Linked DNA regions of Homo sapiens. The protein of the gene in region 4 interacts with the protein of the main gene of each other region in a pairwise test. Each region holds a gene or a part of one and is shown on either strand. Other genes may lie near its edges.

Region 1 (3,500 bases), on a different chromosome or scaffold from region 4:
CGTCTGTTCCTCATTTTCTACAGTCTCTTGAAGCGGTCTCCGAATGTGGAGCTCTCCTTCCCACAGCGATCAGAAGGCTCAAATGTCTTTAGTGGTAGAAAGACAGGAACATTGTTTCTCACTTCATACCGGGTAATTTCTACTTCTACTTTAATCTGCTGATTAACTCTACATTTGTTTTCCTTGAAATGAAGAAAACTTAAACATTGACTTTTGAAGTGTTTTTAAACGTGCGCTTTGGGATTTTCCACACTGAAGGGTGGTGGAAGAAAAGATGATGTTTCTCAGTTAGACCAGAATGCACCTTGCTCTTGTAAGTCTCAATCCATGGACAAATTCTGCATTCCTTTTCCAAAGTTTCTGTCCTTGCGTAGGTGATTTTCATAACTTCATGCTCCATCAGTGATCCCATGTTGTCTTTTATGATGCCATTTGATCTGATGACGAACCTCACTGTTGAACAACCAGTATTTGCTGCAAACTTCATTAAGGGAACTATTCAGGCAGCTCCATATGGTAAGTGTTCCCTCAGAAGTGTGTATTTTTTTTTCCCTCAAAATCTTCTAAAAGGTTTAAGATTCAAACTTGGCTCATGTTGAAATTCAAACAAAAGCTGCCCTACTTTGTCAGGTAGTGCTTCCCTTGGTGTTTGTGGCAGTCTTTCTGTTGTCAGCTATGCCAGTTTCTTGGTGAGTGTGTGCCATTTCTTCCCCCAGGTGGCTGGGAAGGACAAGCTACTTTTAAATTAGTCTTCAGAAATGGAGATGCCATTGAATTTGCCCAGTTGATGGTGAAAGCTGCCTCTGCTGGTAAGTGATGCTGATAAAGATATTAAGCACTTTGGGGTTTTTTGTTTGTTTGTTTGGGTTTTTTGTTGTTGTTGTTGCTGTTGTTGTTGTTTTGTTGTTTTTGAGACAGGGATTTTTGTATTTTTGTAAGTCGGGGTTTCACCATGTTGCCCAGGCTGGTCTCGAACTCCTGAACTCAAATGATCCTCTTGCCTCAGCCTCCCGAAGTGCTGGGGTTACAGGTATGAGCCACCATGCCCAGCCCACTTTGGGGTTTTAAGGCTTGTGGAATTAAAGCAGGACTTCTACTCAGCCAAGATTTGCTGGCCTTTGTGGCCAGGCAGTTGGTATTCGCACACATATTCAGCAGGCATTTCCTGGGCCTACCTACAATTGTCAAGTACCATGTTACAGGGTAGGAACACAAAGATTATTCAGTCCCTTCCTATCCTGAAGGAGCTTGCAATCTAGTGGGAGCTTACAGCCAGACACCCAGGTGACTAATTATACCTGATAGTCTTTTGTCCATTTAAACACTGACCTCAGATATCTACTGAGCGTCTCTTCCTTGGGTCAGGGAGCCCTTAGTTATTCTTTCTTTGGTGTGGCTTTTTAGTTTTTCTTCTCTCTGGACTTGCCTTTGCTTTTCTCAGGTTTAGTCCCCATCTTACATGAGAGGGGAGTAGAGGTACTGTCAAGACTTATAGCACTGATCTAATGGATGTACCACAGAACTCTTTCAAACTGTGACTACAAATAATTTTTTTATCTCATATATGTGTGTGTGTGTGTGTATATATATATATATATATATATATATATATATATATATATTTTTTTTTTTTTTTTTTTTTTTTTTTTTGAGACAGTGTCTTGCTTTGTCACCCAGGCTGGAGTGCAATCATGCAATCTTGGCTCACTGCAACCTCCACCTCCCGGGTTCAAGTGATTCTCCTCCCTCAGCCTCCCAAGTAGCTGGGATTACAAGTGTCCACCACCAAGCCCAGCTAATTTTTGTATTTTTAGTAGAGACGGGGTTTCACCATGTTGGTCAGGCTGGTCTCGAACTCCTGACCTCAGGAGATCCACCTGCCTCAGCCTCCCAAAGTGCTGGGATCACAGGCGTGAGCCAGCACGCCTGGCCGGTCCTTGCGATCTTTAACCCATGGCTTCCATGGCCTCTTTGTACAGCCAGCAGAGAAGGAAATAAAGATCTCCCCTGGGAAATTTTTATGGGCCAGGCCTGGAAACTGTCTACATTACATCTGGTCACATGCCATAGGCAAAACTCAGTGTGGTAGGCTGATAATGGATCCCCAGATATATCCCCATCCCAATCCTCAGAATCTGTGACTGTTACGTTATTTGTAAAAAGGGTGTTTGTAGACGTAATTAATTTAAGGATCTTGAGATGACAAGATTACCCTAGATTATTTAGGTGGCCTCTAAATGCCATCACAAGTGTTCTTATAAGAGAGATGCAGAGGGGAGACAAGACAAAAGTGTTTTCTTCGGTACCACACTTCCTCACATTGGTCTTTAATGGATATATCTTACCAACTTGGTAGAATCCTCACTTAGAAGTTTTTTCTGAATATCTGTTATGATTAGGTGCTATGCTAGGCCTGGAATAAGCACAGGCAAATGAGATACAATCTCTGCCCTTAAGACACGTGCCATTCAGGACAAGGGTCATATTTCTTTTCTTTCTTTCTTTTTTTTTTTTTTTTTTGAGACAAGGTCTTACTCTGTCACCCAGGCTGGAGGCTCCAGTGCAGTGGCACAGATAAGGCTCACTGCAGCCTCAAATTTCCAGGCTCAAGCAATCCTCCTGCCTCAGCTTCCTGAGTAGCTAGGACCACAGGCATGCACCACCATGCCTGGCTAATTTTTAAAAAATTTTTTGTAGAGATAGGGTCTTGCCATGTTGCCCAGGCTGGTCTTGAACTCCTGGGGTCAAGCAATCCTCCCATCTTGGCCTCCTAAAATGTTGGGATTACAGGTGTGAGCCACTTCACCCAGCCCATGTTTCTTTTTTATCTTGTGTCTCAAGAGCATTGTTGGAAACACATGTAAGGTGGTGATTAAATACTCTGTTAATTGTTTAGTTGATATCTGCTATATATCTGACTTAATTAAAAGAGTTCCTATTTTGCCAAATTTGTCTTTCCAGCTGCCCGAGGATTTCCACTTAGAACCTTAAATGACTGGTTCAGCTCTATGGGAATTTATGTAATTACTGGGGAAGGGAATATGTGCACTCCACAGATGCCTTGTTCAGGTAAGGTATGGCAGAGAGGTTCTTCCTGGAAGGTGGAAAATTATGCCAGAGGCTCAAAGATCTATCCCTTGCAGGCTTGCTCCCTGCAGGAGCAGCAGCAGAGCTTTAGGGGCTTGGAAAATGGTCACATCTGTGACTTTGTTTCCAGACTGAAACCCAGTGGCAAAGTCAGCAAGTGACTGGGCTTTGGTTTCAGGCTTACTTTTAATGATATATACAAACCTGGAACATACTTGGCAATCCTGTTAGTGGGAAGGGTCACTTCCTGTTTATAGCCTGAGCAGAAAATATATGCTCTTGCCCACTTCCTTGTTTCCATTTCACATAGCATAGTCATCATACCTGTGCCACACCCTTCAACCTTACTGAGGACTCGAGCCCTGGGTCCTTTAACAGTTTGTGTTGTTAAAGTCCACTGCTACTGAATGGGG
Region 2 (3,500 bases), on a different chromosome or scaffold from region 4:
GCCCAAGCCAAACAACAGGAGCGGGCAGGGCAGGGCTCTGCTGCCAGGCAGCCTCCAGCCTCAGGACAGCTGGCCATGGCCACTGAATGCAGCGTGTTGTGATGGGGACTCTGTACTGGTCTAAGTCATCCCAGGGCTAGGGTTGGGGGTTCTTGTGGGCCATAGGATCCTGCTGTGGTCTCAAGCAGCTGGTCTATGCCCATCTCAGCTCTCTCAGGGTGGTACAGAGAAGGCCCTTCCATGCCCAGCAAAAGCCTCCCAAACTCCAAGGGCTCCCATCCTGATCCCAGCGGGGGCCAGATCTGCCTAGTTCTCTCCAATTTGACAAATTCGAGGAACTGAGGGAAAGGGCTTAGACAAGCTGAGGTTCTGCCTTGCACTTACTCTGTGGCCTTTGATAATGCCTCCCCTTCTCTGGGCCTCAGTTTCCTGGCCTGTTCAATGACCGGGCTGGGTGGGATGGTCTCGAAAAGCTCCAAGCCCCAGCCTTTCTGCATGAAGATCTGCAGCAGGCTCCACTGGAGGAGCAGGAGCCCCGAGGCCCACAGGTGACTGTGCACCCCGCAGGGCCGGCGGCTGGAGGAGGTGCGGCTCAAGCCCATCCTTGCCAGTGCCAAGCAGCATAGCCCAGTGACCGAGGGAGCCGTGGAGGTGAAGTATGAGGGCCACTGGCGGCAGGTGTGTGACCAGGGCTGGACCATGAACAACAGCAGGGTGGTGTGCGGGATGCTGGGCTTCCCCAGCGAGGTGCCTGTCGACAGCCACTACTACAGGTAGGAGGGCGGCTGGCGTAGGCCCCACAGGAGGCAGGGTTGTGGGGCAGGGACTGAGTGTGTGTTCATGTGCGTGCATGTGATGTAGGGTGTGTGCATGAGTCTGAGTGTGGACTCATGTGAGGGGCAAGTAAGTATGCACACAGGCGAGTGTGTGATGTGTGTGGCATGTGGGACCTCGCAGAGTTCAGTGAGTACTGACTGGCAGTGGTGTTGTCTGTGGCAGGACATCCAGCAGGTGTTGGGATTGGGGGAGAGAAAACAGGCCCTACTGAGGAATGTGCCCAGATTTCTTGCTTCACGGGTGCCTCAGAATAATAAACAGGAAAGTGAATAAGGAGGACCTTCAGGATCCTGGGAAATACCTAGAAACAGTCAGAAAACAAACACTGCACTCTCGAATTATGTAAACAGAATTAACTAGGTACAGAACGCCCCCCCACCCCCCGCCCCCGGTGAAAACAGTTGAACATAAAACCGCGTGTCCTTGGTTAAAACACTAGACTTTCCTGCAGATACTTGCAGTGACACCCACGTGTAGAGTTTAGACAAACTGTTCTGGCCTCAGCTCAGCCAGTGACTGGCGTTAGGGCTTTGGGGAGGGCCTCTGAGCCTCCATCCTCAATTCCACTGCGAATATCCCAACGCTTCCCTCCTGAATTTCCTCAGCTCTGATCAAGCCAGGCTGTGACTGGGTTGTGTGTAAGTGAGGCGTGGGGTGGGGCACCTGGAGAGAGGAGACATAAAAATATTCTGTCAGAAACAAGGCGGAACTGTCACAACTGATTGCATCAACCAGTAAACGACAGCCACAGTCATGGTTCTGCCAGATCCGTGTCAGGGAGGACTTGTGTGTTTCCCATCAAGTGAGAAGTCTCCCGTAGTACGTCTGAGTCATCTGCCACCCCAATCAGTTTGATCCTGCTTCCCTAAAGGGTTAGAAGGCCCTTGTTGCAGTGACTTAGAGGAACCCCGTTCTGAGGAAACAGGGGTGCTGGTCAGCCTCTGGCTCCATCCTTGGGGATCCTGGGATGCAGCCTGACTCCCCCTGCCTGGTAATTGCACACCTGGGTCTCGCTGACTTGCCTGCCACCCATGAGGAGGGCAGGCCTGATGGTAGCCTGGGTGTCTCTGGGCGGGCCGCCCCCACCAGCAAGGCCTTCACCTCCCACCTGTCCCCAGAGGGCCCCTTCTCTTGGGCCCTCCCTAAATGCTCCCCTTCCTCTGGACTTCGGAGAGGGCAAGCCTGATCCACCTGCCCCCACTCTAGGACTGGCCGAGGGACCTTGCTTGCCTTCCTTGTAAAATGGTTATTTGTGAGGTGGCCACCCCGTCAGGGCTGCTGTGAAGCTCAGCATTGAAATCAGATTAGTGAATAAGTTTACAAAATGTAAAGTCCTGTGCAAACTTAAGGACAACTATGAGGAACCAGGTGGCAGGGGGTGGGACTTCCACACCCCTTCCACCTCCTATCTGTTTTCTCCCATAACAGGAAAGTCTGGGATCTGAAGATGAGGGACCCTAAGTCTAGGTGAGGAGCAGCACCCTAGAGGGAGGAGGCAAAGGGGTGTGGCATGAAGGGCCTCTATCCCATCCCCTACCCTCCCCTTCCCTCCTTTCTACCTTGGCCTCCCTTAGTCCTGAAGCTCTTCCCTCAGCCCTTCCTCCACCCTCAGTCTCCCTTGTCCTCTAGGCTGAAGAGCCTGACGAATAAGAACTCCTTCTGGATCCACCAGGTCACCTGCCTGGGGACAGAGCCCCACATGGCCAACTGCCAGGTGCAGGTGGCTCCAGCCCGGGGCAAGCTGCGGCCAGCCTGCCCAGGTGGCATGCACGCTGTGGTCAGCTGTGTGGCAGGGCCTCACTTCCGCCCACCGAAGACAAAGCCACAACGCAAAGGGTCCTGGGCAGAGGTGAGCCCTGGGCATCCTGCACTCACACCACAGCTTGGAGGCACGGGCGGGACACTGCCTGGTGGGGGGTGCGGGGAGGTCCAGGACACGCAGGAGAGAGGAACCAGACTGGGAGGAGGAGAGTGAATCACAGAACTGTAGAACCTTGGAATGTATTTAAAAGGGATCATTTATAGCCCTACCATAAATGGAAAGCTGACATCACCCGCCTTGAATAGAAGGTGACCGTAAAAACAGTAATTAAATCCTAACTACATTCCACTGAGGGCTGGTACTGATCCTGAGCCTGCTCCTGAGCCTGCTCCTTTGTTTTAAAGAGGAGATGAGCAAGTGCTTATGAGGTGGTAGAGACGCCTCAGTGCCAAACTGAGATGCCCTCATGAGGTGGTACAGATGCCGTGAGGTGGTACAGATGCCTCAGCGCCACACTGAGATGGCCTCGTGAGGTGGTACAGACACCTTAGTGCCACACTGAGATGGCCTCGTGAGGTGGTACAGATACCTTAGTGCCACACTGAGATAGCCTCGTGAGGTGGTACAGACACCTTAGTGCCACACTGAGATGGCCTTGTGAGGTGGTACAGATGCCTTAGCGCCACACTTGAGACGGCATCCTTGATGAGGCTGTGGGGGTGATTGGTCATTGAAGAAATGGAGATCAAGAAAAACAGCTTATTCAGGGTGACAGCTATGGGAAGTCAGAAGCAGGACTGGAACTCCCCATCCTTGGCTCTGGCCACCGCCATGGAACTTGAAGGAGCCCCGTTGGGGATCCCGCTGTGGGGGCTCAGCCCCTGCTGGTGCCTCCTCCTCA
Region 3 (3,500 bases), on a different chromosome or scaffold from region 4:
AACCAAGGTATAAAAGTTAATCAAGCCCCTTCCTTGGGGCCGAGAGAATTTTGAGCATTAGCCGTCTCTAGGTCGCCGGCTAATAAAAGACTCTTAATTTGTCTCAAAGTGTGGCGTTTTTCTAACTCGCTTGGGTACAACAAGGCCAAGGTGGAAGGATCACTTGAAGCTAGGAGTTTGAGCAACCTGTGCAACCTAGTGAGACCCCCATCTTTTTAATAGAAAAAGAAAAAAAAAAGTAAAAAAAATTAGCTGGGGCCAGGCATGGTGGCTCACGCCTGTAATCCCAGCACTTTGGGAGGCTGAGGCAGGCGGATTACGAGGTCAGGAGTTCAAGACCAGCCTGGCCAACATAGTGAAACCCCCTCTCTACTAAAAATACAAAAAATTAGCCCAGTGTGGTGGTGCACGCCTGTAGTCGTAGCTACTCGGGAGGCTGAGGCAGGAGAATAGCTTGAACCCGGGAGGCAGGGGTTGTGGTGAGCCGAGATCATGCCACTGCACTCCAGCCTGGGCCACAGTCCCAGCTACCTAGAGGCTGAGGCAGGAGGGATCTCTTGAGCCCAGGAGGTCAAGGCTGCTGTGAGCCATGATTGTGCCACTGTACTCCACCTTGGTAGACAGTGAGAACCCATCTCTTTAAAGAAAAAAAAACCAAAAACTAAAACAAAAACTAAAGGCCAAGTGCAGTGGCTAATATCTGTAATCCCAGTACTTTGGGAGGCCAAGGCGGGTGAATCACCTGAGGTCGGGGGTTCGAGACCAGCCTGACAAACATGGAGAAACCCCCGTCTCTACTAAAAATACAAAAAATTAGCCATGCGTGGTGGTGCATCCCTGTAATCCCAGTTACTTGGGAGGCTGAGGCAGGAGAATCGCTTGAACCTGGGAGGCAGAGGTTGCAGTGAGCGGAGATCGTGCCATTGTACTCCAGCCTGGGAAACAAGAGCGAAACTCTATCTCAAAAAAAAAAAAAAAAAGGCCAGGCACGGTGGCTCACGTCTGTAATTCCAGCATTTTGGGAGGCCGAGGCCCGCAGATCACCTGAGGTCAAGGGTTTGAGACCAGCCTGGCCAACATGGTGAAACTCTGTCTCTACTAAAAATACAAAAATTAGCCGTGCGTGGTGGCGCGTGACTGTAATCCCAGCTACTCCGGAGGCTGAGAGCAGGAGAATCCCTTGAATCTGGGAGGCGGAGGTTGCAGTGAGCTAAAATTGGACCATTGCACTCCAGCCTGGACGACAGAGGAAACTCCATTTGAAAAAAAAAAAAAAAAAAAAAGACCTAGAATTGATGGAAAGGGAATGTTCTGGTTAAGATAAAAGATTGTGGAGAACAAAGTTCTTTTGAAGTCCTATAGTGGCTGCCCTTAGAGACAATAGAAGACAAATGTTTCCTATTCAGATGTTAGTTAACATCTTTAGGATTGGGAGGGTCTGGAAGAAAAAGATCTAGCTATGTTAATAGAGATTCTTTACGGATGCAAATTCTCCCCCAGAAAGAACAGCTTTGCCGGGCCATTTCTTTTTTTTTCTTTTTTTTTTTGAGACAGAGTCTCGCTCTGTCACCCAGGCTGGAATGCAGTGGCACCATCTTGGCTCACTGCAACCTCTGTCTCCTGGGTTCAAGCAATTCTCCTACCTCACCCTCCCGAGTAGCTGGGATTACAGGTGCCTGCCACTACGCCCAGCTAATTTTTGCATTTTTAGTAGATACGGGGTTTCACCACGTTGGCCAGGCTGGTCTTGAACTCCTGATCTCAGGTGATTTGCCTGCCTTGGCCTCCCAAAGTGCTGGGATTACAGGTATGAACCACCGCGCCCGGCCCTGGCCATTTCAAAATATGGCAAAGAAACATGCTTTGGGGTAAAATATTTTGATTTTCTTCCTTGTGTTGTATCTTGTAATTTTATGCCAGACTCAGGTTAGAAAGTAAGTCACGATGTATAGGGTTAAATAAAATACTTCTGAAGAGAATTTGTGATTTGTAGGGCATGACTCCCCAAACCCCTTAGATAGGAATTTGGGCAAGATAAAAAAAAATCAGAGTTTAGTTGTCATAATATTCTATGTAACAAAATTGGAAGTATGTACAAAGGTTTTGTTTTGTTTTGTTTTGTTTGAGACAGTCTCGCTCTGTCACCCAGGCTGGAGTGCTGGAGTGCAGTGGCACAATCTCGGCTCACTGCAACCTCCGTCTCCCGGGTTCACGCCATTCTCCCGCCTCAGCCTCCTGAGTAGCTGGGACTACAGGCGCCAGCCACCATGCCCGGCTAATTTTTTTTTTTTTGTATTTTTTAGTAGAGACGGGGTTTCACCATGTTAGCCAGAATGGTCTCGATCTGCTGATCTCGTGATCCGCCCGCCTCGGCCTCCCAAAGTGCTGGGATTACAGGTGTGAGCCACCGTGCCCGGCCTGTATAAAGTACTTTTGTGGCATGTTAAGTGTTGATTACTTGTGGAAAAGAACAATAATTGGCCGGGCGCGGTGGCTCATGCCTGTAATCCCAGCACTTTGGGAGGCCGAGGCGGTGGATCACCTGAGATTGGGAGTTCGAGACCAGCCTGACCAACATGGAGAAACCCCATCTCTACTAAAAATACAAAATTAGCCCGGCGTGGAGGTGCATCCCTGTAATCCCAGCTACTCAGGAGGCTGAGGCAGGAGAATTGTTTGAACCCAGTAGGCAGATGTTTTGGTGAGCTGAGATCGCGCCATTGCACTCCAGCCTGGGCAACAAGAGCAAAATCTGTCTCAAAAAAAAAAAAAAAAAAAAAAAAAACTTGTGTAATTGAGTTGTGAGCTGAACTAGGTCCGTTTTTCATGGAACACTTTTTCTTGAAAGAATGAAAGACATGCTTTTGTTATTCAGACTTCAGTATTTGGCTTGCTCTATTGCCCAGGCTGGAGAGCAGTGGCACGATCTCGGCTTACTGCAACCTCCACCTTCTAGGTTCAAGGGATTCTTCTGCCTCGGCCTCCCGATTAGCTGGGATTACAGGCCCCACCACCATGCCCAGCTAATTTTTTTTTTTTTGTATTTTTAGTAGAGACAGGGTTTCACCGTGTTGGCCAGGCTGGTCTTGAACTCCTGACCTCAGGTGATCGGCCCACCTCGGCCTCCCAAAGTGTTGGGATTACAGGTGTGGGCCTCCACACCCTTGAAAGTGAACAGTGATCTGTCACATCAAGGAAAATAGCTGACAATATTTGTTGATAATGGTAAAATTCAAGTCCAGTTAAAATTTTCAGGCCTGATGAGCTTAATCTCAGCACTTTGGGAGGCCAAGGGGGACAGATGGCTTGAGCCCATAAGTTCGAGACCAGCCTGGGCAACGTGGCAAAACCCTGTCTCTTACAAAACATTAACTAGGTGTGGTGGTGCGTGTCTGTAGTCCTTACCACTTGGGAGACTTGAGGCAGAAGTATCACTTGGACCTTGGAGGTCTAAGCTGTAGTGAGCTGTGATTGTGCCACTGCACTTCAGCCTGGATGAC
Region 4 (3,500 bases):
GCTTTCATGTCATTAAATTTTTTTTTGTTTTTTAATGAAAGCTTTTTTGTTTTGTTTTTACAAAAGCAATGCTTACTCACTGCAGAAAATAAACATGCAAAAAGAAGCACATAAAAGAACCCATCAGCTCATCTGCTAGTTTGCCATTTATTGATCAGGACTAACTAGATTCTTCCTCTTGGAAAATTTCCAAGATTGATTCCCTCCGCCTCCAAGTTCAGAGCAGGATTTGGAAAAGTAAATATTAATAATGTACCTAGATCTGATTTTTAAGAGGTTCCAGGATGAAATAGAAACCATTTTTCTATACAGCTGCATTTTCTGATGGCTCTTGGTTCAGTGTGGAGCCCAAAGTCCTCCCATATAGCTTTTTCTGTCAAGAATTTAGCAGTTGCTTGGTGGGTTTTGCACAAGTTACTTTTCTATATCAAAATGGATACCAATAATAGGTTTTTGAAAACTTAATAAATATTTGTAAAGTACCTAATATGTAGCTAAATCAATAAATATTTGTAAAGTACCTACTATGTAGCTAGAACTGTGCCTGGGTACTGTACGGAGTGCCAATGAAGGAGGACCTGTCCTAAATTTATAGTCTTATTAGCATTAGTGCTCTAGCTGTGCCAGTTTGACTTTGTAACTTTATAACTCTATCCCAGCTTCACCCATAACCTTTTAAAAACAGCAGCTTTAGAATAAGTACAGAAAAGGATTCTTAGAGGCTATATATTGGTCTTTTTCATAGAGATTAAATTATGCTGGTGTTTATTTGGATGAATTGTAACTGACCAGACAACTTTCCGAAGAGAAGCTATATGATTTAGAGGTGTTATAAAGTGGATAGTGGGTGAAAATCCTTTCTTTATATAATTGCCTAATTATGGTCCTTTTGTGATATCATAGATTTCAGGATTCTTCTGTGGTTATTGATTCTTATAACTAGCTTGACTTCTGTTTTTTGGTTTGTTTGTTTGTTTTTTTAGGGTTCAGAATTTTTTTTTTTTAGGTTTGAGGCTTTTCTGGGTGGGAAAAACCTCACAGAAATATTCTTAGTGTATGTTACTGGTAGGAGCCTCTCCCTTCCACACGTTTACTGAATGCCTATTGTGTCCCAGCCACTATATTAGGTGAAAGGGACAGAGGAATGGATAAGACAGATGAGGTTCCTGCTCTCATGGAGCTTACATTTTAATGGGAGAAGAAAGCTCAACAGATAAATAATATAATGTCAGATAGTGATAAACACTATGAAGAGGCCGGGCATGGTGGCTCACGCCTGTAATCCCAGCACTTTGGGAGGTCAAGGTGGGCAAATCACCTGAGGTCAGGAGTTCGAGACCAGCCTAGCCAACATGGTGAAACCCCATCTCTACTAAAAATACAAGGGCATGGTGGCCAGCACCTGTAGTCCCAGCTACTCGGGAGGCTGAGGCAGGAGAATTGCTTGAATCCAGGAGGTGGAAGTTGCAGTGAGCCGAGATCATGCCACTGTCCTCCAGCCTGGGGGACAAGAGCAAAACTCTGTCTCAAAACAAAACAAAACAAAAACACTATGAAGAAAATTACACAGGTAATGAGAAAGGAGAATGAGTAGATGATAGGAATGGGTGATGGTGGATGATCCTTCTTTATATTATGTGGTCAGAGGGCCTTCCGTTATCGGGTGACATTTGGGCAGAGACCTGGGTGTTGGCAGGAGGCCAGCCATGTGACCATCTGGGGAAATAGGAATAAATCTTATCATTTGCAAAATCTTAGGTTACTAGCCTATTTTCCACGCTTTTTTGTTTCCCCCTAGTTTTAGTCAAGTCTCTCCTATGGTAGCAGTCTCTAAGAGCAGAGACGATCTTATGTACTGTTACTTCCCATTGCCTACCTAGCATAGGGTCTGGTACATGGTTAACCCGTAGTGAATTTTTGTTGAAGATATTCATTGGTGGGCACTAGGGATATGGTGGTAAACTAGACTCATTTAGTCTCCTTTTTCTTCCATGAATTTTAAATGATGTTTTGCAAGAAGTTCTTTTGGATTGAAAACTTCAAGATCAGTGCTAAGCAGTACGGATAATTATACAGTAATTTACTAATGTATAATCCCATATAATAATGCTAGTTTCTTACCTGTACTCCTTCAGATATACCTCCGTAGTCTCGAAGGGGGTAATATGGAGAATTAGGAGTTCCTTGGTGAGGAGAGTTAGGTTTTCACAAAGTTAGGTTTTCTCTGAGAGAAAACAAGCACTAAGATTTTTCTATAGGCTTAACACATTTCATTTAACTGATAACTTTGATTTCGAGGTTCTGCCAAATTATTCTAGTTATAATAGAGATACTGTAAAGGACTGAAAAATTCTGAACCCTAAAAAAAAACAAAAAAAAAACGAAAAACAGAAGTCAAGCTAGAAGATAAGAAAGGACAGGCTTGTTAGTTTGTTAGTCATTGATTATCACATCTGATAGGGTTATAGATATTCAAATATGTCCCAAATACCAGATTAGTTTGTTAGTCATTGATTATCATATCTGATAGGGTTATAGATATTCAAATATGTCCCAAATATCAGATTGTCACATCTGATAGGGTTATAGATACTCAAATATGTCCCAAAAGAACAGCTTTCTTCCCCTATATCTTTGGGTAGATTTTGTCTATAACCAAGCATTATTTCGTAGCACTGGAGCTGATTTAAATGACCCTTGATGCAGGAAGGCTGCTCTTCTTTCTGTAGTGCAAAAGTATTCTGATCATAATTTCTTATTAAAGTGATCAGAGATCCCCTCAGACCCAAAAGTATACTTTATAAGTACTTGTTGGTATCCTGCTGTGCATTGTGAAAGAATTCTGGAGGTGTGCCAAACACTGCTCAACAATAAGCACTTTCCATTAGTTGAGTAGTGTTGAATCTTGTTTCCTTACCCACTCTTTGGCCTTAACAAATTAAGTCATTTTATAGCTTAAAAACATATTTTTATTAACTTTTAATACTCTTTTTCATGTGTTCAACATTCTTACTTTAAAATCATATTGCTTTTCTCCTTTAAGAAACTTACCAAAAGCAAGGGTATAAAGTAACTGAATGCAATGAGTGTACCTATTATTAGGAATTATAAAGGAGAAACAGTTAATCTGACTTAAACTTGTAGGAAAACCATCACTCTGAATAGAAAACAAAGATAAATAGGTACCGTATGCCTCTGTGTCCTGTATTTTAAAAAGACCTTTTGCTCAACATCATTCTAAATTCATGAGTTTGAGGACAAGAGTCCAGAATTTAATATGATGAAAGTAAACATAAAGCTAAAACTTGGGAAGGTTCCCTTTAGGTGCTGTGTTTACTAAAAAGGAGACTTGTAAATTGGTATCTAACTTGTTTGGCAAATTTCTTTTAGCTCTGAAGGGTTTATATGCTTTCAAAGAACCTATTGGAGAAATATGCACTATAATTCTAAACAAGGGTAACTTGCCCAAAGTCTCACAGCTAGGAAGTTGGACTGCCAGA
Region 5 (2,968 bases), on a different chromosome or scaffold from region 4:
TCCTTCCTTTCTTCCTTTCTTTTTTGCTGGCAATTACAGACAAATCACTCAGCAGCTACTTCAATAACCATATTTTCGATTTCAGACCGTGATAATACCTACAACCGAGTGTCAGAGGATCTGAGAAGCAGAATTGAAGTCCTGAAGCGCAAAGTCATAGAAAAAGTACAGCATATCCAGCTTCTGCAGAAAAATGTTAGAGCTCAGTTGGTTGATATGAAACGACTGGAGGTAAGTATGTGGCTGTGGTCCCAGATGTCCTTGTTTCTGAGTAGAGGGAAAAGGAAGGCGATAGTTATGCACTGAGTGTCTACTATATGCAGAGAAAAGTGTTATATCCATCATCTACCTAAAAGTAGGTATTATTTTCCTCACTCCACAGTTGAAGAAAAAAAATTCAGAGATATTAAGTAAATTTTCCAACGGTACATAGATAGTAAATTTCAAAAGCAAATGTTCAGTCCCTGTCTAATTCCAAAGCCCATTACATCACCACACCTCTGAGCCCTCAGCCTGAGTTTCACCAAGGATCATTTAATTAGCGTTTCCTTTGAGAGGGAATAGCACCTTACTCTTGATCCATTCTGAGGCTAAGATGAATTAAACAGCATCCATTGCTTATCCTGGCTAGCCCTGCAATACCCAACATCTCTTCCACTGAGGGTGCTCGATAGGCAGAAAACAGAGAATATTAAGTGGTAGGTCTCCGAGTCAAAAAAAATGAAACCAGTTTCCAGAAGGAAAATTAACTACCAGGAACTCAATAGACGTAGTTTATGTATTTGTATCTACATTTTCTCTTTATTTTTCTCCCCTCTCTCTAGGTGGACATTGATATTAAGATCCGATCTTGTCGAGGGTCATGCAGTAGGGCTTTAGCTCGTGAAGTAGATCTGAAGGACTATGAAGATCAGCAGAAGCAACTTGAACAGGTCATTGCCAAAGACTTACTTCCCTCTAGAGATAGGCAACACTTACCACTGATAAAAATGAAACCAGTTCCAGACTTGGTTCCCGGAAATTTTAAGAGCCAGCTTCAGAAGGTACCCCCAGAGTGGAAGGCATTAACAGACATGCCGCAGATGAGAATGGAGTTAGAGAGACCTGGTGGAAATGAGATTACTCGAGGAGGCTCCACCTCTTATGGAACCGGATCAGAGACGGAAAGCCCCAGGAACCCTAGCAGTGCTGGAAGCTGGAACTCTGGGAGCTCTGGACCTGGAAGTACTGGAAACCGAAACCCTGGGAGCTCTGGGACTGGAGGGACTGCAACCTGGAAACCTGGGAGCTCTGGACCTGGAAGTACTGGAAGCTGGAACTCTGGGAGCTCTGGAACTGGAAGTACTGGAAACCAAAACCCTGGGAGCCCTAGACCTGGTAGTACCGGAACCTGGAATCCTGGCAGCTCTGAACGCGGAAGTGCTGGGCACTGGACCTCTGAGAGCTCTGTATCTGGTAGTACTGGACAATGGCACTCTGAATCTGGAAGTTTTAGGCCAGATAGCCCAGGCTCTGGGAACGCGAGGCCTAACAACCCAGACTGGGGCACATTTGAAGAGGTGTCAGGAAATGTAAGTCCAGGGACAAGGAGAGAGTACCACACAGAAAAACTGGTCACTTCTAAAGGAGATAAAGAGCTCAGGACTGGTAAAGAGAAGGTCACCTCTGGTAGCACAACCACCACGCGTCGTTCATGCTCTAAAACCGTTACTAAGACTGTTATTGGTCCTGATGGTCACAAAGAAGTTACCAAAGAAGTGGTGACCTCCGAAGATGGTTCTGACTGTCCCGAGGCAATGGATTTAGGCACATTGTCTGGCATAGGTACTCTGGATGGGTTCCGCCATAGGCACCCTGATGAAGCTGCCTTCTTCGACACTGCCTCAACTGGAAAAACATTCCCAGGTTTCTTCTCACCTATGTTAGGAGAGTTTGTCAGTGAGACTGAGTCTAGGGGCTCAGAATCTGGCATCTTCACAAATACAAAGGAATCCAGTTCTCATCACCCTGGGATAGCTGAATTCCCTTCCCGTGGTAAATCTTCAAGTTACAGCAAACAATTTACTAGTAGCACGAGTTACAACAGAGGAGACTCCACATTTGAAAGCAAGAGCTATAAAATGGCAGATGAGGCCGGAAGTGAAGCCGATCATGAAGGAACACATAGCACCAAGAGAGGCCATGCTAAATCTCGCCCTGTCAGAGGTATCCACACTTCTCCTTTGGGGAAGCCTTCCCTGTCCCCCTAGACTAAGTTAAATATTTCTGCACAGTGTTCCCATGGCCCCTTGCATTTCCTTCTTAACTCTCTGTTACACGTCATTGAAACTACACTTTTTTGGTCTGTTTTTGTGCTAGACTGTAAGTTCCTTGGGGGCAGGGCCTTTGTCTGTCTCATCTCTGTATTCCCAAATGCCTAACAGTACAGAGCCATGACTCAATAAATACATGTTAAATGGATGAATGAATTCCTCTGAAACTCTATTTGAGCTTATTTAGTCAAATTCTTTCACTATTCAAAGTGTGTGCTATTAGAATTGTCACCCAACTGATTAATCACATTTTTAGTATGTGTCTCAGTTGACATTTAGGTCAGGCTAAATACAAGTTGTGTTAGTATTAAGTGATGCTTAGCTACCTGTACTGGTTACTTGCTATTAGTTTGTGCAAGTAAAATTCCAAATACATTTGAGGAAAATCCCCTTTGCAATTTGTAGGTATAAATAACCGCTTATTTGCATAAGTTCTATCCCACTGTAAGTGCATCCTTTCCCTATGGAGGGAAGGAAAGGAGGAAGAAAGAAAGGAAGGGAAAGAAACAGTATTTGCCTTATTTAATCTGAGCCGTGCCTATCTTTGTAAAGTTAAATGAGAATAACTTCTTCCAACCAGCTTAATTTTTTTTTTAGACTGTGATGATGTCCTCCAAACACATCCTTCAGGTACCCAAAGTGGCATTTTCAATATC
Region 6 (4,116 bases), on a different chromosome or scaffold from region 4:
CCTCCCAAGTAGCTGGGTTACAGGCATGCGCCATGATGCCCTGCTAGTTTGTTTGTTTTTTTTTTTTTTGTATTTTTAGTAAAGATGGGGTTTCGCCATGTTGGCCAAGCTGGTCATGGACTCCTGACCTCAGGTGGTCTGCCCACGTCAGCCTCCCAAGATGCTGGGATTACCAGCATGAGCCACTAGTCCCGCCCAGGATTTTTTTTTTCCTTTTTCATGAGCCAAAGAAAGACCCCAGACTAGCTAAGAGAGAGGCCCAAGGATACCTGAAGGCCGGGGAGGAGGGACAACCACTTGTTGGGGTGAACCAATCGCAGAGGCTCAGCAGGACAGAGGCCAAGGCTGAGGAGGCCCCCACAGAGAAACAGAGCCTGAGGACAAGGGGTTCCTCACAACACCTGTGCTCCCCGAAAGCTCCCCTCCACACCCCTCTCTAGGTGCCCTACTCTCTGGGGTTGGTGAAGGGGTGCCAAAAATGCAAACTGATCCACAGAAAAATAGAGTCCTGTATTTTAAAAATATATCTAGGTTTGTATATGGACATTCACATCACACAGACACACAGACACACATGCAGCCACACACACACACACACACAGAGACACCAAAGAAAAGTGCTTTAGAAATACACCAAAATGTGGCTGGGTGCGGTGGCTCATGCCTGTAATCCCAGCACTTTGGGAGGCTGAGGTGGGCAGATCACGAGGTCAGGAGTTCAAGACCAGTCCGACCAACAAGGTGAAACCCTGTCTCTACGAAAAATACAAAAATTAGCTGGGCGTGGTGGTGTGTGCCTGTAGTCCCAGCTACTCGGGAGGCTGAGGCAGAAAGTTGCTTGAACCCGGGAGTCAGAGGTTGCAGTGAGCTGAGATCACGCCACTGCACTCCAGCCTGGGCAACAAAGCAAGACTCTGTCTCAAAATAAAAATAAAAAATAAAAAGAAATAAAAAAGAAATATACCAAAATGTTAGCTGGGGTCTTCTCTGGGTAGTAAAGTGCTGGGGGATATTTTCCAAAGTCCTTCTTTACATTCTCTGAGTTTTTCCATGTTCTTCAATGAGTATTTAATAAGCAGATAAAAACTAATACAACAAAGGATTTTTTCTGTGTGCTTTTTTGACCTTTGGAGGAAGAGATTAGAGCTAGTCCCATAACCAGGTTATTTGAGTAGGTCTAACAAGCCCGTATTACCAGAAATTATCATCTGGTCATTTCCAGTCCGAGAACAGAACACTTGGTTGTCCTGGCATTTCCCAAGCAGGGGGAGGAGTTCTCTGCAGGAATAAATAAGCCTCAGCATTCATGAAAATCCACTACTCCAGACAGACGGCTTTGGAATCCACCAGCTACATCCAGCTCCCTGAGGCAGGTAATCCATGATGTTTTACATCCTGGGAGCGGAGGAATCTGTTTTTCCAGGAGAGTTTTAGGCAGCAGCCTGGAGTGTGTGGAGTGTGAGGGGTAAGCAGAGGCCAGGAGGAGGTGTACTCAGGTGTTAGGGGCCAGGGGTCTGTTCTTGGCTGCCACTGATTCCCTGTGCCTTTTTTAGAGGCATCCTCTGTGTCTGGGTTTTCACACCTGCAAAGGGTGGAGGTGCCCTGGGGCCTCTATGGTCATTTCTGCCTTGATACTTACAGATTCGGATTTGAGTCAGCTGTGCATCTGACCCTCAGGGAAGAGGTGCTGTCCCCTTGCCTGGAGCAGGGTGCAGCTCTCAGAACATGTGGCAGATGTGATTATTGCAGCAGGTCCCTCTGAGCAGAGGCCACAGGCCTCACCATGATTTCAGGGTCTCCATGGGGCTGCCTCGGGAGCTCCACTTCCCCAAAAGGACCCCTGGCCAAGTCGACAGATGGGCTGTGTCTCTGTCCAGCAACAGAAAAGACAAACTGCTGGGAAACAGCCAGCCCTCCAACTTGCCCAAACAGAAAAGACAAGCCTTTGCCCCTGAAATAATTCTGGAGAAAAATATTGTCTAACATTTATCCAGAGAAATGATTGCATCAGCCTGAGAGTGAACAGTTGAAGCAAACAAGGTGCCTCTGTCCCTGGGCTTGGCCAAAGGCATTTCCACTGGCCTCCCCTCCTTCCCCTCCTTCCCCTCCTTCCCCTCCTTCCCTTCCTTTCCTTCCTTCCCTTCCTTCCACTCTCTCTTCCCCTTTTCTTCTCCTCTCTCTACCCCTCTCCCCTCCCCTCCCTTCCAATCGCCTCTCTTCCCCACTCTTCTCCCCAGCACCCAAGCTGCCCCTTTTCTCTTCTGAATTCTAGGACTGAGTGGGCGGAGGCTGAAGGTGAATAATCTTGTTTGCTGCGGTCACCGGCTTGGAACTCAGCCCTTCCAGGGTCTCTTGTGCAGTAGCTCATGGCTCTTCTCTGGCTTGTAGTTTCAGGAAAGGGGTAGTATGGGAGGTGGTGACTGCTCGGTACGTCTAATATGAACCAGGTGCCTTCATCATTTATCTCACCTGAGCCACTTAACAGGTTGTGCAGAGACGGAAACAGGTTGAGAGATGTACAGTCACCTGCTTGCCAGTACACAGCAATCAAAAGTGGCCAAAATAAAATCCCAGTCCAAGTCTGGGAGACTCCAAAGCCCTCTCTGCCTTCTCCCCACTAAGAGGCCCTTCCAGGCTTATGGTGGACACAGACACCACGTGGCAACCTGGCAGGGGCAGAGAAGAACATTTGCCTTTCTTTGGTCTTGCTGCCAACCATTATCAGGGCCATCGAGGCTCCAGACACTGTACCAGGGACTTTCATTTCCCTCTCTCAGTCGACCCTCACTGCCACCCAGCATCACATCGTGGAGGCCTGTGGAGGCCACACCACGTGACATCTAGAGGCTGGGAGAGTCACTGTGGCCTCTATCTCTGCCCAGGGCTCCTTCATCCCTGGGTTCTACTTTGGTGGCAGTTGGGAGAATGAAGGAAGGGAGCCCCTGCTTTCTAATCCCCTAGGATGAGATCTGCTCACCAAGCAGGAGAGGAGCAGGCATTCTGATTGGACTGAACCTCGGACCCCCCATCAGCTTACAGACCGAGGAGCCAGGCAAACCTGGCTGCCCACTGGGCTCCTTTACCTGTTTGCTGTATGATCTTGGGCAAGCCCCCTCACCGCTCTGTGCCCGGCTTTTCCACTGCAAGAAAATGGCAACAATTATGGTACCTACCTCAAAGGGTGAAATGAAGCAGAGTGATGTGTGTCGGGTGCCCCAGAGAGCACCTACCTGAGGGAGGCTCCAAAGCTAGCAAGAGGCAGCAGGACAGGGACCAGGACGCAGGCTGGGTGGAGGGCAGTGGGAGGTGGTCGGGGCTCCATCTGGCCCTCTGAGACTTAAAGGAGCTTTGCTTTTCAGAGTTGAGAATGGAGAGAATGTTACCTCTCCTGGCTCTGGGGCTCTTGGCGGCTGGGTTCTGCCCTGCTGTCCTCTGCCACCCTAACAGCCCACTTGACGAGGAGAATCTGACCCAGGAGAACCAAGACCGAGGGACACACGTGGACCTCGGATTAGCCTCCGCCAACGTGGACTTCGCTTTCAGCCTGTACAAGCAGTTAGTCCTGAAGGCCCCTGATAAGAATGTCATCTTCTCCCCACTGAGCATCTCCACCGCCTTGGCCTTCCTGTCTCTGGGGGCCCATAATACCACCCTGACAGAGATTCTCAAAGGCCTCAAGTTCAACCTCACGGAGACTTCTGAGGCAGAAATTCACCAGAGCTTCCAGCACCTCCTGCGCACCCTCAATCAGTCCAGCGATGAGCTGCAGCTGAGTATGGGAAATGCCATGTTTGTCAAAGAGCAACTCAGTCTGCTGGACAGGTTCACGGAGGATGCCAAGAGGCTGTATGGCTCCGAGGCCTTTGCCACTGACTTTCAGGACTCAGCTGCAGCTAAGAAGCTCATCAACGACTACGTGAAGAATGGAACTAGGGGGAAAATCACAGATCTGATCAAGGACCTTGACTCGCAGACAATGATGGTCCTGGTGAATTACATCTTCTTTAAAGGTGAGTGTGCCTGGCTTGGGGTTCAGAAGAGGTGGATCTCAGGGCCATTTCTGTCCTGACTCAACAATGGTGTTATTAGGCAAACCACTGTAGAGGAGAGTGCCCA
Region 7 (2,765 bases), on a different chromosome or scaffold from region 4:
TGGTGGTGCGCGCCTGTAGTCCCAGCTATTTGGGAGACTGATATAGGAGGATTGCTTGAGCCCAGGAGTTTGAGGCTACAGTGGGCTGTGATTGAGGTACTGCACTCCAGCCTGGGCCACAGAGTGAGACCCTGTCTCAATATCCTCCACCTGCCACCCCACCCCTCCACAAAAAACAAACAAACAAAAAAACTAAAAATATGTATACTATTAAGCTCTTAGTAAAAGTTTCCTTTCATAGAAAATATAGAATTTTTGCATTCACTTTGCACTTTGAATCAGTTTTTTCCCGGTTTAGAAACAACCCTAATGAGAGACAATTCATTTGGAAAATTGGATGGGTTCCAGTTTTTTTGCTGTCAGAGAATTGGATAAATAGCCTATATCATGTGATAATTACTATAAAGCAATGAAGCTTGACAGTGAGGTGAGGGATTTGAAAACATACAGTTAATAAGCAAGGCGAATTACTACCCTGTTTGTAAATATGGATACATTTCCAAGAGTGAAAAAAAGAAGTTGATACCATTTATGTTAAATATAACCAAAACATGTTACATGTTATCTGGCTACATGTAAATATACATAAAACAAGTGGACTAGAAGGCTGCACAGGACTTGCAGTGGGACCTCTGGGAATAGGGGGAGCAGGATCCACCCGGAGCTGGAAGGGGCCGTAGAGCTAGAGTTCCCTGTTCTTATTTAAAAATCTTCATGTCCTTGGGCCAGGCGCGGTGGCTCACGCCTGTAATCCCAGCACTTTGGGAGGCCGAGGCAGGTGGATCACAAGGTCATGAATTCAAGACCAGCTTGGCCAGGATGGTGAAACCCCATCTGTACTAAAAATACAAGAATTAGCCGGGCATGGCGGCAGGCGCCTGTAATCCCAGCTACTAGAGAGGCTGAGGCAGGAGAATTGCTTGAACCTGGGAAGTGGAGGTTGCAGTGAGCCAAGACTGCACCATTGCACTCCAGCCTGGGCAACAGCGAGACTCCGTCAAAAAACAAAACAAAACAAAAAAAAACTTCATGTCCTTATATATTTGTGTAATTTAGAAAAGAACATAAACAACAAATATGGGAAAAGATGAACAATGGTTAATTCTGTGGAGTGGGAGCATGGTGGGTGATTATTTTGTTTATGCTTTTAGGTATGTTTCCAACCATCAAACCAAAAAAAAAAGAAAAAGAGAAACAGATCCTTGATCTTAACAGGAAATGGCTGTCATTATGAGTATTATTTCTATTCCCTGTTTTCATAGAAAATGTGGACACAGACTTGCCAGGCAGCCTGGGGCAGAGTGAAGAGAAGCCCGTGCCTGCTGCGCCTGTGCCCAGCCCGGTGGCCCCGGCCCCAGTGCCATCCAGAAGAAATCCCCCTGGCGGCAAGTCCAGCCTCGTCTTGGGTTAGCTCTGACTGTCCTGAACGCTGTCGTTCTGTCTGTTTCCTCCATGCTTGTGAACTGCACAACTTGAGCCTGACTGTACATCTCTTGGATTTGTTTCATTAAAAAGAAGCACTTTATGTACTGCTGTCTTTTTTTTTTTTCTTTTGAAGAACAGGTTTCTCTCTGTCCTTGACTCTTGGGTCTGTGGGCCATGGCATGAGTGTTTTCTAGTAGTAGATTGGAGGGAAAGCTTTGTGACACTTAGTACTGTGTTTTTAAGAAGAAATAATTTGGTTCCAGATGTGTTAGAGGATCTTTTGTACTGAGGTTTTTAACACTTTACTTGGGTTTACCAAGCCTCAACTGGACAGACCATAAACAGTCCACAGGCACCGTTCCTGCCAGGCCCCAACCCACAGGGAGTCTCTCCGCAGAGCCTTCTTGGTGTTGCCCTAACTTGCCAGTGGCCTTTGCTCAGAGCCTCCTCCTGTGACATGTGAACAATGAAGAGGCCTGCGCCTCCTGCCTTGCCGCCTGCAAAGCAAAGAAACTGCCTTTTATTTTTTAACCTTAAAAAGTAGCCAGATAGTAACAAGACTGGCTGGCTGATGAGCAAAGCCTTTGCTCTCACGCAGAGGAAGGCTTGGATGTACAATGAAACTGCCTGGAACTAAAAGCAGTGAAGCAAGGGAGGCAATCACACTGAAGCGGGTCTTCCTCCAGGAACGGGGTCCCACAGGCGTGTTGTTTTAAATAACCTGATGCTGTGTGCATGATGCTGGTGCTTGACCATGAAAGGAAAGTCTCATCCTTAAAATGTGTTGTACTTCACAATCCTGGACTGTTGCTTCAAGTAAACAATATCCACATTTTGAAACACTGTGTACTGTGTCTTCTTTTTGAGATGGTTTCAGTGTTCTCCCTGGTTAGATGCTTTTCTCTTTGTCACTATAAATCCTGCCTACTGATTGGAGGAGTCATTTGAAGTTAAATAGCCAGATGTGCCTGTAATTAGCTACTTGGGAAGCCAAGGCAAGAGGATGCTTGAGCCCAGGAGTTTGAGACTATCCTGGGCAACATAGCGAGACCTCCTTAAAAAACAAAATCTTAAAACAGATGAAGACCCAGAGAGGAGTGGGTTTCTTTCTGAAGAAGGCTCTAAAGATGAGCAGGTTAGACTCTTCTACCTCCCCTTTGTTCTGGGCAGTAACATTTTAAAGTGTTCTCCAAGACTGGGCAACATGGTGAAACCTCGTCTCTACCAAAAATAGCCAGGTGTGATGGCACACGCCTGTAGTCGGGAGGCTGAGGCAGGAGGATTGCTTCACCCTGTGAGATCAAGGCTGCAGTGAGCCATGATCGCACCACTGTACTCCA

What was found.
Region 1: the proteins of LAMP2 (region 4) and WBP2NL interact in binary tests that used the Homo sapiens proteins (3 or more experiments, as listed by UniProt).
Region 2: the proteins of LAMP2 (region 4) and LOXL4 interact in binary tests that used the Homo sapiens proteins (3 or more experiments, as listed by UniProt).
Region 3: the proteins of LAMP2 (region 4) and ZBTB8OS interact in binary tests that used the Homo sapiens proteins (3 or more experiments, as listed by UniProt).
Region 5: the proteins of LAMP2 (region 4) and FGA interact in binary tests that used the Homo sapiens proteins (3 or more experiments, as listed by UniProt).
Region 6: the proteins of LAMP2 (region 4) and SERPINA3 interact in binary tests that used the Homo sapiens proteins (3 or more experiments, as listed by UniProt).
Region 7: the proteins of LAMP2 (region 4) and JPT1 interact in binary tests that used the Homo sapiens proteins (3 or more experiments, as listed by UniProt).

The regions. Positions count from the first base shown.
Region 1 is NC_000022.11:42,019,288-42,022,787, forward strand, and holds part of WBP2NL (postacrosomal sheath WW domain-binding protein), read left to right. Parts: intron 1-23; coding exon 24-132; intron 133-357; exon of another isoform or gene 358-374; coding exon 375-516; intron 517-716; coding exon 717-809; intron 810-2,961; coding exon 2,962-3,069; intron 3,070-3,500. UniProt on the Homo sapiens protein: May play a role in meiotic resumption and pronuclear formation, mediated by a WW domain-signaling pathway during fertilization.
Region 2 is NC_000010.11:98,258,195-98,261,694, reverse strand, and holds part of LOXL4 (lysyl oxidase homolog 4 precursor), read left to right. Parts: intron 1-567; coding exon 568-773; intron 774-2,265; coding exon 2,266-2,304; intron 2,305-2,466; coding exon 2,467-2,686; intron 2,687-3,500. UniProt on the Homo sapiens protein: Catalyzes the oxidative deamination of lysine and hydroxylysine residues in collagen and elastin, resulting in the formation of covalent cross-linkages, and the stabilization of collagen and elastin fibers.
Region 3 is NC_000001.11:32,640,551-32,644,050, reverse strand, and holds part of ZBTB8OS (protein archease), read left to right. Parts: intron 1-3,500. UniProt on the Homo sapiens protein: Component of the tRNA-splicing ligase complex required to facilitate the enzymatic turnover of catalytic subunit RTCB. Together with DDX1, acts by facilitating the guanylylation of RTCB, a key intermediate step in tRNA ligation.
Region 4 is NC_000023.11:120,462,797-120,466,296, reverse strand, and holds part of LAMP2 (lysosome-associated membrane glycoprotein 2 isoform A precursor), read left to right. Parts: intron 1-3,500. UniProt on the Homo sapiens protein: Lysosomal membrane glycoprotein which plays an important role in lysosome biogenesis, lysosomal pH regulation and autophagy.
Region 5 is NC_000004.12:154,584,775-154,587,742, reverse strand, and holds the end of FGA (fibrinogen alpha chain isoform alpha precursor), read left to right. Parts: intron 1-85; coding exon 86-231; intron 232-824; coding exon 825-2,249; 3' UTR 2,250-2,468; downstream 2,469-2,968. UniProt on the Homo sapiens protein: Cleaved by the protease thrombin to yield monomers which, together with fibrinogen beta (FGB) and fibrinogen gamma (FGG), polymerize to form an insoluble fibrin matrix. Fibrin has a major function in hemostasis as one of the primary components of blood clots.
Region 6 is NC_000014.9:94,611,075-94,615,190, forward strand, and holds the start of SERPINA3 (alpha-1-antichymotrypsin precursor), read left to right. Parts: upstream 1-1,316; 5' UTR 1,317-1,373; exon of another isoform or gene 1,374-1,465; intron 1,466-2,272; exon of another isoform or gene 2,273-2,295; intron 2,296-2,961; exon of another isoform or gene 2,962-3,165; intron 3,166-3,359; 5' UTR 3,360-3,367; coding exon 3,368-4,010; intron 4,011-4,116. UniProt on the Homo sapiens protein: Although its physiological function is unclear, it can inhibit neutrophil cathepsin G and mast cell chymase, both of which can convert angiotensin-1 to the active angiotensin-2.
Region 7 is NC_000017.11:75,134,748-75,137,512, reverse strand, and holds the end of JPT1 (jupiter microtubule associated homolog 1), read left to right. Parts: exon of another isoform or gene 1-1,262; coding exon 1,263-1,411; coding exon of another isoform or gene 1,412-1,511; 3' UTR 1,512-2,265; downstream 2,266-2,765. UniProt on the Homo sapiens protein: Modulates negatively AKT-mediated GSK3B signaling.